Regions from separate parts of the Homo sapiens genome. Here region 1 is linked to region 2. A link means that fine-mapping ties the variant in region 2 to the expression of a gene that starts in the linked region. Tissue or cell type: whole blood. Region 2 holds a variant in brackets; the other region holds the start of a gene. All regions are shown on one strand. Distances are from middle to middle.

Region 1 (5,719 bases), 67 kb before region 2:
ACAATAATGATCATGAGTACTTCTTGAGCTCTTCCTCTGTGCCAGGTACTGTTCTAAGCACTTGACTTGAATTCACTCATTTAATTCACACAACTCTATGAGCTAAGTACTGTTATCTATTCACCAATAATCATGAGGAAACAAGTACTAAGAAGTTAAAGACCTGACCAAGTTTCACATCTAGTAAGTGGCTGTGATGGTGAATACTGAATCAACTTGATCGCATTGAAGGATGTAAAGTATTGATCCTGGGTGTGTCTGTGAGGGTGTTGCCAAAGGAGATTAACATTTGAGTCAGTAGGCTGGGAAAGGCAGACCCACCCTCAATCTGGTGGGCACAATCTAATCAGCTGCCAGCACAGCTAGAATATAAAGTAGGCAGAAAAATGTGAAAAGACTAGACTGGCCTAGCCTCCCAGCCTACTTCTTTCTCCCATGCTGGACCCTTCCCACCCTCGAACATCAACGAACATCAGACTCTAGGTTCTTCAGTTTTGGGACGCAGACTGGCTCTCCTTGCTCCTCAGCTTCCAGATAGCCTATTGTGGAGCCTTGTGAGCATGTGAGTTAATACTTAATAAACTCCCCTTTATATAACATTATATATATATCCTATTAGTCTGTCTAGAGAAACCTAATATACTGGCAGTGCTGGGCTAGGGACCCAGACGGTCTCACTCCCCAGCCCCACTTAGCAAATCACTGTGCCACACTGTCTTCATCAGCCCGGGGGACTGCAGGCGCCACACCATCTCCACCAGCCCACGTGATTGCAACCCTGGTGCCTGGTGCTGCCTCCTTTGCAGGCTGGAAATTTGATCTGAACCTTTTTCCAGACTTCCAGGCTCAGAGTCTGGGATGCTGAAACATGCTCATTTTCAAGAGACTGAGGTATACATGTGCATCAGCTTCACCTGCATGTTGCCTCCCAGAAGCTACCTGGCAACATGCAACGTCAGAAGGTTGCCTTGTGAGTATAGAAATAGAATAGAGGGAATGAGTTCTACGACCGAACTGTTTAATGACCTCAGCATCCTATGTCCTGATATTGTGCCTGTGGAGGATAACATTTTTATTTTATTTTTAAAGACAAGATCTTGGTCTGTTGCCTACGCTGGAGTGCAGTGGTGCGATCGTGATTCACTGCAGCCTTGAACTACTGGGTTCAAATGATTCTTCCACCTCAACCTCTTGAGTAGCTGAGACTACAGGTGTGCACCACTACTCCTGGCTCATTTTAATTTTAATTTTAATTTTGTAGAGACAGGGTCTGCCTATTTGCTCAGGTTGGTCTCAAACTCCAGTGATCCTCCTGCCTTGCCCTCCCAAAGTGCTAGGATTACAGGCATGAGCCACCTCACCCATGACACATTTTTTTTTTTTTCTGTATCTGACACCAAGAGTTTGTTGGTCTGAGAGATTAGGTCAGACCCTCTGGACAGGATCTCCCTGACTGACCGGTTTCTTCAGCCTGGCCCATTCTTTCTCTAGATTTATTAATGATTCAGTGACGTGCCCGTTGATCTAGTTGCCCTGGAAATAATGCCTCTGTTTGAGATGACATTTCATATCCTTACACTCTGATTCACCATTCAATCATTTACAAATATGAACACTTCTGTGTACAACAAATGGAGGATACAGTAGACAGACATTTCAGTGGAAGAGATACAGATAATTAATATGTAAATGAGTGAAAAAGAGAGATTACTTCAGATGGTGATAAATGGTATGAAAAATTTCCAGCAGGGTAACGAGATTGAGTATTGAGATGGAGGATGGTGTGGGGCTGTAGAAAGGGGGGACTGGGGATATCTCTCTGAGGATGTAGAATCTGAACTGAGCCCTGCATGTGAGGAAGGAGCCAGTCATGATCTTAAAAGTTTCGTTCTCCGCCGGGTGGGGTGGCTCACACCTGTAATCCCGGCGCTTTGGGAGGCTGAGGTGGGCGGATCACCTGAGGTCGGGAGTTTGAGACCAGCCTGACCAACATGGGGAAACCCCGTCTCTACTAAAAATACAAAATTAGCCAGGCGTGGTGGCACATGCCTGTAATCCCAGCTACTAGGGAGGCTGAGGCAGAAGAATCGCTTGAGCCCGGGAGGTGGAGGTTGCAGTGAGCCGAGATTGCGCCATTGCACTCCAGCCTGGGCAACAAGAGCGAAACTCCATCTCAAAAAAAAAAAGTTTCGTTCTCAGAGGAAACACTTCACGCCTATCCTGTGAAGTGGAAGTTCATTGCTTGTCTCCAGAGAGACAATGGTATAAATTAGGCAGCTATGGTTGCCGTAGTGTTGCTGGTATTGGGGATTAAGTACATGGCGATTAAATGGTCATGTGGCCGTGCTTTCCAACAAAAATTCCAGACACATCGTCTTACATGTAGCATGAGGACTGGAAATATTTGAAATCAGGGTTGTCTTGGACTTTCCAAGGCACATGATTACCATAATTAACAGGCTACAGAGGGCTGGCCTGGGCCTGACCCCACGCTCCACACTGTTGATATGGAAACTGTTCCCAGTTTCTAAAAAGCCAAATAACAGGTGAACTTTTGGAATAAAATCACTTGCCTTTTGGAACCATATTTCTTTTCCCCAACAACATTACATGTTCTTTCCTCAGCAAAAAGTCTGAGTTGTACACATTTTTGAATCCCTCAAAGCATTTAGCAGAGTGCTGGGCATACGGAAGACAGCAGGATCCCGTGGCTTTGCCTGAAACGCGGAACCTGGTCTTGACTTTTGAGTGACTGAGCCCTCCTGGTGCCCGCACTCTGGCCGGGAGTGCCAAGCAGCGTTCTCCCTCCCGCCGCACGGGGGCACAATGGGAAGCCTGCACAGTGAGGAAGAGCGGCTGGAGCCGGTCTTGTGCCGGGGAGGTCGCTGCTCCCAGAATGCACCTGGCATCAACACGGCGGCGGCGGCGGCGGCTTCCAACAGGCTCTGGGGCGCCGAGCGGACAGGAACGCAGCACGGGGGCTCCGAGGCGGGGTCTGGGTGTTGAGGGGCGACTGGAGCCATGGCGGAGTCGGCGCCTGCTCGGGTAAAGAGGCACCGGCGCGCTGGCTCGAGGGCGCGTTGGGGATGGCGGAGTCCCCTGCCGGGGGCGGGGCTTCGCGGTTTGGACGCCGCCGGGGTCTTGGTTTCCCGGGGCTGCCGTTGGCGCGGGTGAACGCGGACCCTCCTCTTCGCGACCCCAGTGCTCTGCCCTTTTTTCCCTCCGCTTCCTTCTGCAGCGGGGTCGGAGCCTCGGCGCCGTGCGCCCTTGCCCAGAAACTTCTCTGACGCTTGCTTTAGGTTGGTGGATTTGTGACCCTGCCCACACATTTTCTCTTTCGTGCCAAAAGAGCCCGTTCCCAGGTTGGAGTGTTTCCAGATTGGAAACGGTCTCCGTCGCTACGAGTGAGCTCTCCCGCTGCCCGGGAGACCCCAGGACTTGCCTCTCTGCGACCACCTCCTCTTCGGTCCGATGTGTTGTCGGTTTTTCCAGTGCTGCAGATTTCTGTCTGGGGGTTGCAGCCACAGGTTGAAGTCAGCCTGGGCTGCTTCTCCTTGGGGACGGATGTTATCTACAGTGCAGTTGCTGCATTTTGTTTGTAGAGCTGCCCAAACTCTCTCCTTCACCCCCCCCCCAACACCCCCCTCCCAGCCCACCGACCATCCCCATTCTGGGAATGTCAAGATACGGAGTTTGGTGTGAGGAAAATCCTATTTGTGGAGTCACGAAGCTTTCAGCTGTCCATTTGGGTGATTTTAGGCAACTGTGTTCGCTTCTCTGGGTCTCTTTCGTTTTCTTAACTGTAAATCGAGAGTGTTGGAGTAGTTGCTAGATGATCTCCAAGGCTTTAAGTTTCCTTCCAGCTCCGACATTCTCATACTGTTCCCATACTGTTTCAAAGTAGTGGTTAATTTAACAACACCAGAGGGTTTGCAACGGAAGGGGCAGCTGGAATTGAATTGACTTTTAATGAAGTGTTCCTTGGTCTAGAAACACTTCGAGAATCATGTTAGATCTTTGTGAGAATGGAGGGCTAAGGAAATTCTGTGGGGAAAATTTGACCATGAGCAGGGTGCGCTATATTTGATTCTTGTAGAAAGTGCGTTAAGAACTAAGAACGGAGAGATTGGGAGACTTAGAGAACACAGTATTTGCTTTCAAGGAAGTTAACAGTTGAATTGGGAAGACAAGACACAAATGTTTACAATATTAACCTCATCTGACTCCTATAAGCTAGGCTGAGCCAGTCAAAGACTTGGCTTTTCCACAAGATCTAGTTAGTGTTAGAGTCCGGCGAGAGGATTCTGCCACAGTTCTTCCTGCCAGGTCACTCCACAATTACCTACATGTCGTCAGTAGACCTTGTTAGGAAGAAGCCTTAAAGGTCCACCACAGGCCAGGCGCAGTGGCTCATGCCTGTAATCCCAGCACTTTAGGAGGCCGAGGAGGGCGGATCACGAGGTCAGGAGTTCAAGACTAGTCTGGCCAATGTGGTGAAACCCGGTCTCTACTAAAAATACAAAAATTAGCCGGGCGTGGTGGCGGGTGCCTGTAGACCCAGCTACTCGGGAGGCTGAGGCAGAATAATCGCTTGAACCTGGGAGGTGGAGGTTGCAGTGAGCTGAGATCGTGCTATTGCACTCCAGCCTGGGTGACAGAGCAAGACTCTGTCTCAAAAAAAAAAAAAAAAAAAAAGTCCACCACAATCCCAAACTATGCCTTAAATAACATGAATCTGTCGTTGTAGAACTTATTCAAATTGTTCTTGAGCCTGTTTCTCTTCTCAGACATTTCAGGTGTCTGTCATTTAACAGTAAGCTCAAGTAGGTGCCCTGATGAAACAACTGAAAATGCTGGAAAACCCTGCACATAAATGCATTTGAAATGTATTTTAGTAAAGAATACTTGGAGCCCCAAAACTTAAGCGAAAGAGGAAACTCGAAAGTGATAGAGTTCTGAAGCCAACTTTGAGGGCATTGGCCAAACATTCATCTTTGGTGTTTATGATTCAAGGGACCTGCAAAATGGAACACACATCTCAGAGCCTAAGATGGAAAGTCTAAGAAGCTCCCTAACCCAATCCCATGAAGCAGAGAGTTCAAAGGGTAACATTCTGTGTAAGGGTGAACTGAAAGTAAGGTCTGACCTTCAGATGATTGCAAAGTAAGTTGTTAAACCTTGGCACTGAGATTACAGGCGTGAGCCACCGTGCCTGGCCATAGTTTCGTTTCTTTTCTTTCTTTTCTTCTTTTTCTTTTCTTTTCTTTTTTTTTTTTTTTTTTTGAGAGAGTCTCGCTCTCTTGCTCTGGCTGGAGTGCAGTGGAGCAATCTTGGCTGCCTGAAACCTCTGCCTCCCAGGTTCTAAGCGATTCTCCTGCCTCAGCCTCCGGAGTAGCTGGGATTACAGGCATGCGTCACCATGCCTGGCTAATTTTGTATTTTTAGTAGAGATGGGGTTTCACCGTGTTGGCTGGGCTGGTCTCTGAACTCCTGACCTCAGGTGATCCACCTGCCTCGGCCTCCCAAAGTGCTGGGATTACCACTGCATGAGCCACCGCACCCGGCCTAAGGCAGAGGGAATTCTTAAAAGCAACCAAAAAAAAAAAAGACTACCTTGAAATGAAGTACAGCAAAATGAATGGGGGCCAGCTTCTCAACAGCAACCATGGAAGCTAGGCAAAAGTAGAATGATATTGTCAATAGGCTGAAAGAAAGTAAC
Region 2 (5,928 bases):
TTTATTTAAAATAGATTCTCAGAAGTGGCATGACTGAGTCAATATAATAAATACAATATTGCCAAAATTGCTTTCCAAAAGGGTTGGAGAGGATTGAAAATGTGGAAAATCCCATTTTACCCTTGCCATCTTAAAATGTTAGTGCTAGATAACAAACAAGCAGAAACAAAAACAAAACAACAACAAAAAGTACTGTGTTGACGGTATTGGTCAGCCCGGGCTGCTAAAACAAAATACCATGGACTAGGCAGCTTGAACAACAGAAATTTATTTCTCACAGTTCTGGAAGCTGGAAGTCCAAGATCAAGATGTGGGCAGATTCTCTCCTGGCTCTCCTTAGGGCTCTTCTTCTGGCTTGCAGACATCCTCAACATGTTGGGGAGAGAGGGAGAGAGAGTGGGAGAGAAAAGGAGAGAGAGAGAGAGAGATGTGGAGATGTGGTCTCTCTTCATGTAAGGGCACTAATCCCACCCTGGGGCCCCACCCTCATGACCTCATGTAAACCTAATTACCTCCTAAAAGCCCTACCTTCAAACAATATCACTTTGGGGATTAGGGCTTCACCATATGAATTTTGGAGGACACAGACATTCAGTCCATAACAGTAACCAAGAAAAGTTTCTGGAAGGCAACAGCATGACCAGATTCATTTTGTGTGCATTATGGGTTGAATTATTTCCCCCTCCCTTTTTTTTTTTTTGACATGGAGGCTCGCTCTGACGCCCAGGCTGGAGTGCAATGGCACAATCTCGACTCACTGCAACCCCTGCCTCCTGGGCTGAAGCAATTTTCCTGCCTCAGCCTCTCCAGTAGCTGAGGCCACATGCGGGTGCCACCACGCCCAGCTAATTTTTGCATTTTTAGTAGAGACAGGGTTTCACTGTGTTGGCCAGGCTGGTCTCGTACATCTGACCTCAAGTGATCTGCCCCGCCTTGGCCTCTCAAAGTGCTGGGATTACAGGTGTGAGCCACCACCCCCACCCCCCAACAAATTTATATGTTGAGGTCCCAAACCTCAGTACCTCATAATGTAACCATATTCAAAGATGAGGCCTTTAGAGAGGTGATGAAGCTAAAAAGAAGCTGTTAGGGTGGGGCCCCAATGTAAGAGGACTGGCGTCCTTATGAGAAGGGGAAGACACCAGGATGGGCACACACAGAGGAAAGGCGTGTGAGGACACAGTGAGAACGTGACCACCTGCACACCACAGAGAGGCCTTAGGAGAAACCAGTACCACTGACACCTTGATCTTGGGCCTCCAGCCTCCAGGACTGTGAGAAAATAAATGTCTGTTGTTGAAGCCATCCAGTCTGTGGCGTCTTGTTATGGCAGCCTGAGTGGATTCATGGTGGGTCAATTGCTGATGTTTTGGAGAGTGAACAGCTCATAGGACACGGTGAACCAGCTGCAGCTTCCTTCGGGCTGCGTGGAGGCTGCCGGCACCACCCCACAGGATTCTTCTCTGTGTGGATGCTCCTGGGGGTTTGCTGAACGCTGTGGGCCCCAGGAGGTACTAACTCTTTTTGCTGGCGGGAGAAGGCGTCCCTCCAGGGGCTTGGATTGGCCTTTATCTTTCCAGAAATATTTGCTGAGCCCGAGTCATGTGCTATGTGTTAGGTGATGGGGCTACAAGGCAAGTAAGGCAGGGTCCCCAAGGCTTAGACCAGCGGGGATGCCTGTAAGAAACAAATCACTACACTCATGCTAGAGTCAGTGTTTTGGGAAATTTAACGTAGGGTTCCTGGACATTGCAAGTATGTGTCCTTTTTAATTTGTATTTTATTATAATATACAGACAACTGGGTTTGGGAATCATATTACTCCTGTTTTTTTTTTTTTTTTTTGAGACGAAGTCTCACTCTGTCTCTCAGGCTGGAGTGCAGTGGTGCCATCTTGGCTCACTGCAAACTCTGCCTCCTGGGTTCAAGTGATTCTCCCACCTCAGCCTCCTGAGTAGCTAGGATTACAGGCACCCGCCATTATGCCTGGCTAATTTTTGTATTTTTGTAGAGACGGAGTTTCACCATGTTGACCAGGCTGGTCTTGAACTCCTGACCTCAGGTGATCCGCCTGCCTCGGCCTTGCAAAGTGCTGGGATTACAGGCATGAGCCACCATGTCCGGCCACTCCTAGTATTTTTAAAAAATATTGTGGGTGTTTTAGTATTTTATATTTACTTTTTGTTAGGAAAAAAGGTACATGTTTGTGTGGGAACATAGAGGCCCAATGGGAAGGGGGCAGAGAAGGAGATGAGGTGTGACCCCATCACAGAAGGGGTGACACCTAGGCTCCGGTGAGTTTTTGTTCTTGTTACATTCTCTTCCTTTTTAGAAAGGTAAGAAAATATTGACACAATAATATATCTACATGGTTCAAAATTCCAGTGGCACAGAAACAATGGTATCTCCTCTCACTCTTGTCCCCAGCCACCCATGTCCCCTCCTCGCAAGCAATTGATGTTCCCAGTTTCTTGTAGATCTTTCTAGAGTTTTTTCATGACATAAATGCAAACATGTCATCTCCCCTTTTCTTCCCCTCTACAAACAGTAGCAGGCTATGGCGGAAACACATTTTCCTTGCTTGCTTTTCTGTTTCTTCTTGGCAATCTTTCCCTATCAGTACATAAAGAGCATCCCCATTTGTAAAGGGTTGCCTGGCATTCAATTGTACGGCTGTATGTAATTTATTTAACAGTCCCCAGATGAGGGACAATTAGGTTGCTTCTAATGTTTTATAATTTAAAATGATGTGGCTACAGAATAACCTTGCAGACATCATTTCACAATTGTGTTTATAGACCTCTTAGTTTCTAGAAGTGTAATTCCTGGGTCAAAGTTATGTGCTTTTAGCATTTCAAAAGTTCTTGCCAGGTGCCTCCTTAGAGGTTGTATCAGTGTACACTCCTACCAACAAC[G/A]CAGAAACATGCCTGTTCCCCATACACCCTGAATCCCTAGTGTGGTATCAGACTTTGTAGTTTTTAGCATCTTAAAGGAGTTTACCTGGAGGTCTTGGAGAATGAGGCTGGAGGAGGAGAGGGAGCTGGGGTTGCAGCTGTTGTGAATGAGGCCAGAAAGTCAGGGAAACTGGAATGGGAGGCAGGGAACTCTAGGCTCTCCAGTGAGCCGTGCTTACTCTCTGCTGCAATAACAACACTAGCCATCGTTTATGAAACATTTGCTATGGGTCAGGCACCACTCTAAGGCTGTAAGCCTGGAGTCAGACTCTTGTTCTGAAAAGGGCCAGATTGTACATGTTTGTTATTCTATAGGCAAAATAGTCTCTGTTGGCAACCACTCAGCTCTGCCTTTTTAACAGGAAAGCAGCCACAGACACCAAAGAAATGAACCAGAGTGGCTGTGTTCCAAGGAAACTTTATTTATGGATGCTGAAATTTGATTTTCATATAATTTTTGCATGCCACAAAATATTTTTTGAAGCAACAGCAAATATTTATTGAACACTTACTCTGTGCCATTAAAAAACAACAACAATTGTTTCATTTACTTTTCCCCAAGTCCCATGAGGGCCCATTTCCCATCCCCCCAACCAAGCCATTGAGAAGGGTAAAATCCATTCGTAGCCTGTGGGGCTGTGCCCCGTGACAGACCACGGTTTGCTGATTCCTGCTGTAGAGGTTCTCATTTAGACTGGATAAAGAAAATATGGTACACGTATACCCTGGAATACTATGCAGCCATAAAAAAGAATGAGATCATGTCCTTTGCAGCAACATAGATGGGGCTGAAGACCATTATCCTAAGTGAACTAACAAAGGAACAGAAAACCAAATACTGGATGTTCTCACTTAGAAGTGGGAGCTAAACATCTTCACATGGATACAAAGAAGGGAACAACAGACACCAGGTTCTACTGGAGGGTGGAGGGAGGGAAGAGGGTGAGGATCAGAAAACTACCTATTGAGTACTATGCTTATTATTTGGTGACAAGATAGTCTGTGCACCCAACCCCCACGATATGCAATTTACCCATATAACAAATATGCACATGTACCCCAAACCTACAATAAAAGTTAAAAAAAAATGAAGGTTCTCATTTAATCCTCACAATTGTAGGACCTTCTATTTTATTCTTTTTGAGGTAGGGTCTCGTTCTGTGGCCCAGGCTGGAATGCAGTGCTGTGATGATGGGTCCCTGCAGCCCCAACCTCCCAGGCTCAAGCAATCCTCCCTCCTCAGCCTCCCAAGTAGCTGGGACCACAGGCACATGCCACCACACTCGGTTAATCTAAAAAAATTTTTTTTGTAGAGGTTGGGGTCTCGCCATGTTGCCCAGGCTGGTTTCAAACTCCTGAGCTCAAGCAATCCTCCAGCCTCAGCCTGGAGGCTGGAATTACTGGTGTGAACCACTGCGCCCCGCTGTAGGGCTTTTACATCCCCATTTAACAAATGGCAAAACAGAGTCCTAGGCAGGTCCAAGAGAAAAGAGGTCTCAGTTAGCACTCAAGGAGGCGGCCACACTCACGGCTCCAGCTGGACCATCAGTAAGGAGGACCGAAGGACTCCCACCCCGCTGCGGAGCAGCCCTTTCCGCCCCGCTCCCAGAGCACTGCGGCCTCCTCCTCACTTGCTTCCTGCAGGTGAGAGGTGGTGGACAGGACCTGTGAGGGTCTGGGCCAGCCTCCTGGCTTCATAGGTAAGGAATGGGGTTTTGTGTGGTGTGTGCGTCTCAGCCTTCACGGAGCATTCCTAACAGTTCTCTACTTCGCCACATGCAGTGAGGTCCACTTATTTTCTCCTGATCTGGGCTATTTCCTTCCCTTCCCTTACTCAGCCCTCCCTCTTACTTGGGGAGCCAAGGTCTCCAGGGAAAGCTATTTATTTCGTGGCCAGAGAGGCCGCAGCCCTAGCAATCCCAGGAACCCCCACATCTGCGCAGGCCAGCCAGGCTGGAGAAGCTGGAATTTCACAGCCTGGAGGTGATCAGGCCCAGTCAGGCGGCTTCACTCTTTTCTCTTCAGTCCCTGCCCTGGATGCAGGGACCAAGTAGCCCCCCTGCGTGGGGACTGTATTAATTCCCTAGGGCTGCCATACAGGGTATTACAAATGGAGTGGCTTGAAACAACAGCAGTTTATTCTTGGACAGTTCTGGAGACCAGAAGTCAGAAGTGGAGGTGCCAGTCAGGCCTGCTTCCTCGGAGACGCTGGGTAGAGCTCTTCCTTGCCTCCTCCCGGCTTCTGGTGTGGCCTTGCTCCTTGGTGCTTTTGGCTTACAGACATTCGCTCCAGTCTCTGCCTCCATCTTCCCATGATATTCTTTCTGTGTTTGTGTCTGTCTCCTTTCCTCTTCTTACAAGGACATCAGTGATATTGGATAAGGGCCCACCCTAATGACCTCATCTTGAGCTCATTATATCTGCAAAGACCCTGTTTCCAGATAAGGTCCCGTTCACAGGTACCAGAGGTTAGGGTTTCAATGTATCTTTTTAGGTGACCCATTCAATCCAAAGCAGGGACCTTGCCTCTTGGCGAACATGCACAGTGAAGACCACCCTTGAATACCAGAGTTCGTCTCTTAAGTGGGCTATAATATGAAAAATATGGGAAGGCATTCATGTGCGAAAGCCAGAATAGGGAGAAGCCACCTGGATTTGAACCCCAACTTCTTGACCTACAGTCCAGTGCCCTAAGCTGTGGCCCCAACACATCAGCAGTTCTTATGGGTCCTTTTCTCCAGTGGGGTCACACTCAGGGCCCATGTTGACTATTAATTCTGCAAGGAGGTCCTGCTGTACTGTAGGCCTTGGGCCTCGATGCCTCTCTAAGATCCTCCCCCATTGTCTCACCCAACACTGTGCAATGACCATCCTTGAACTTTCTTGTCAAGGCTGCACCTGAATCCATTGCTCTTGCTGCCATTTTCACATGGAATTCCTTCCCACCTGCCTTGTTTAAGTAAGCCCTTCAGAA

Evidence for each region. PIP is the estimated chance that this variant, and not a neighbour inherited with it, causes the effect.
Region 1: it holds the start of ZNF212, and the variant in region 2 is fine-mapped to the expression of ZNF212 in whole blood (TOPMed, PIP above 0.99).

What each region holds. Positions count from the first base shown.
Region 1 is chr7:149,236,758-149,242,476 of GRCh38, forward strand. It overlaps ZNF212 (zinc finger protein 212), which reads left to right and starts at 2,894. Exons shown (of 5, transcript NM_012256.4): 1 at 2,894-3,045. The coding sequence starts at 3,022. RefSeq lists an enhancer at 2,661-2,955.
Region 2 is chr7:149,303,381-149,309,308 of GRCh38, forward strand. No RefSeq gene overlaps it. Among named protein-coding and RNA genes, the nearest start is that of TRC-GCA1-1, 3.8 kb to the right of the region's middle. The variant G/A (reference allele first, on the strand shown) is at 2,916.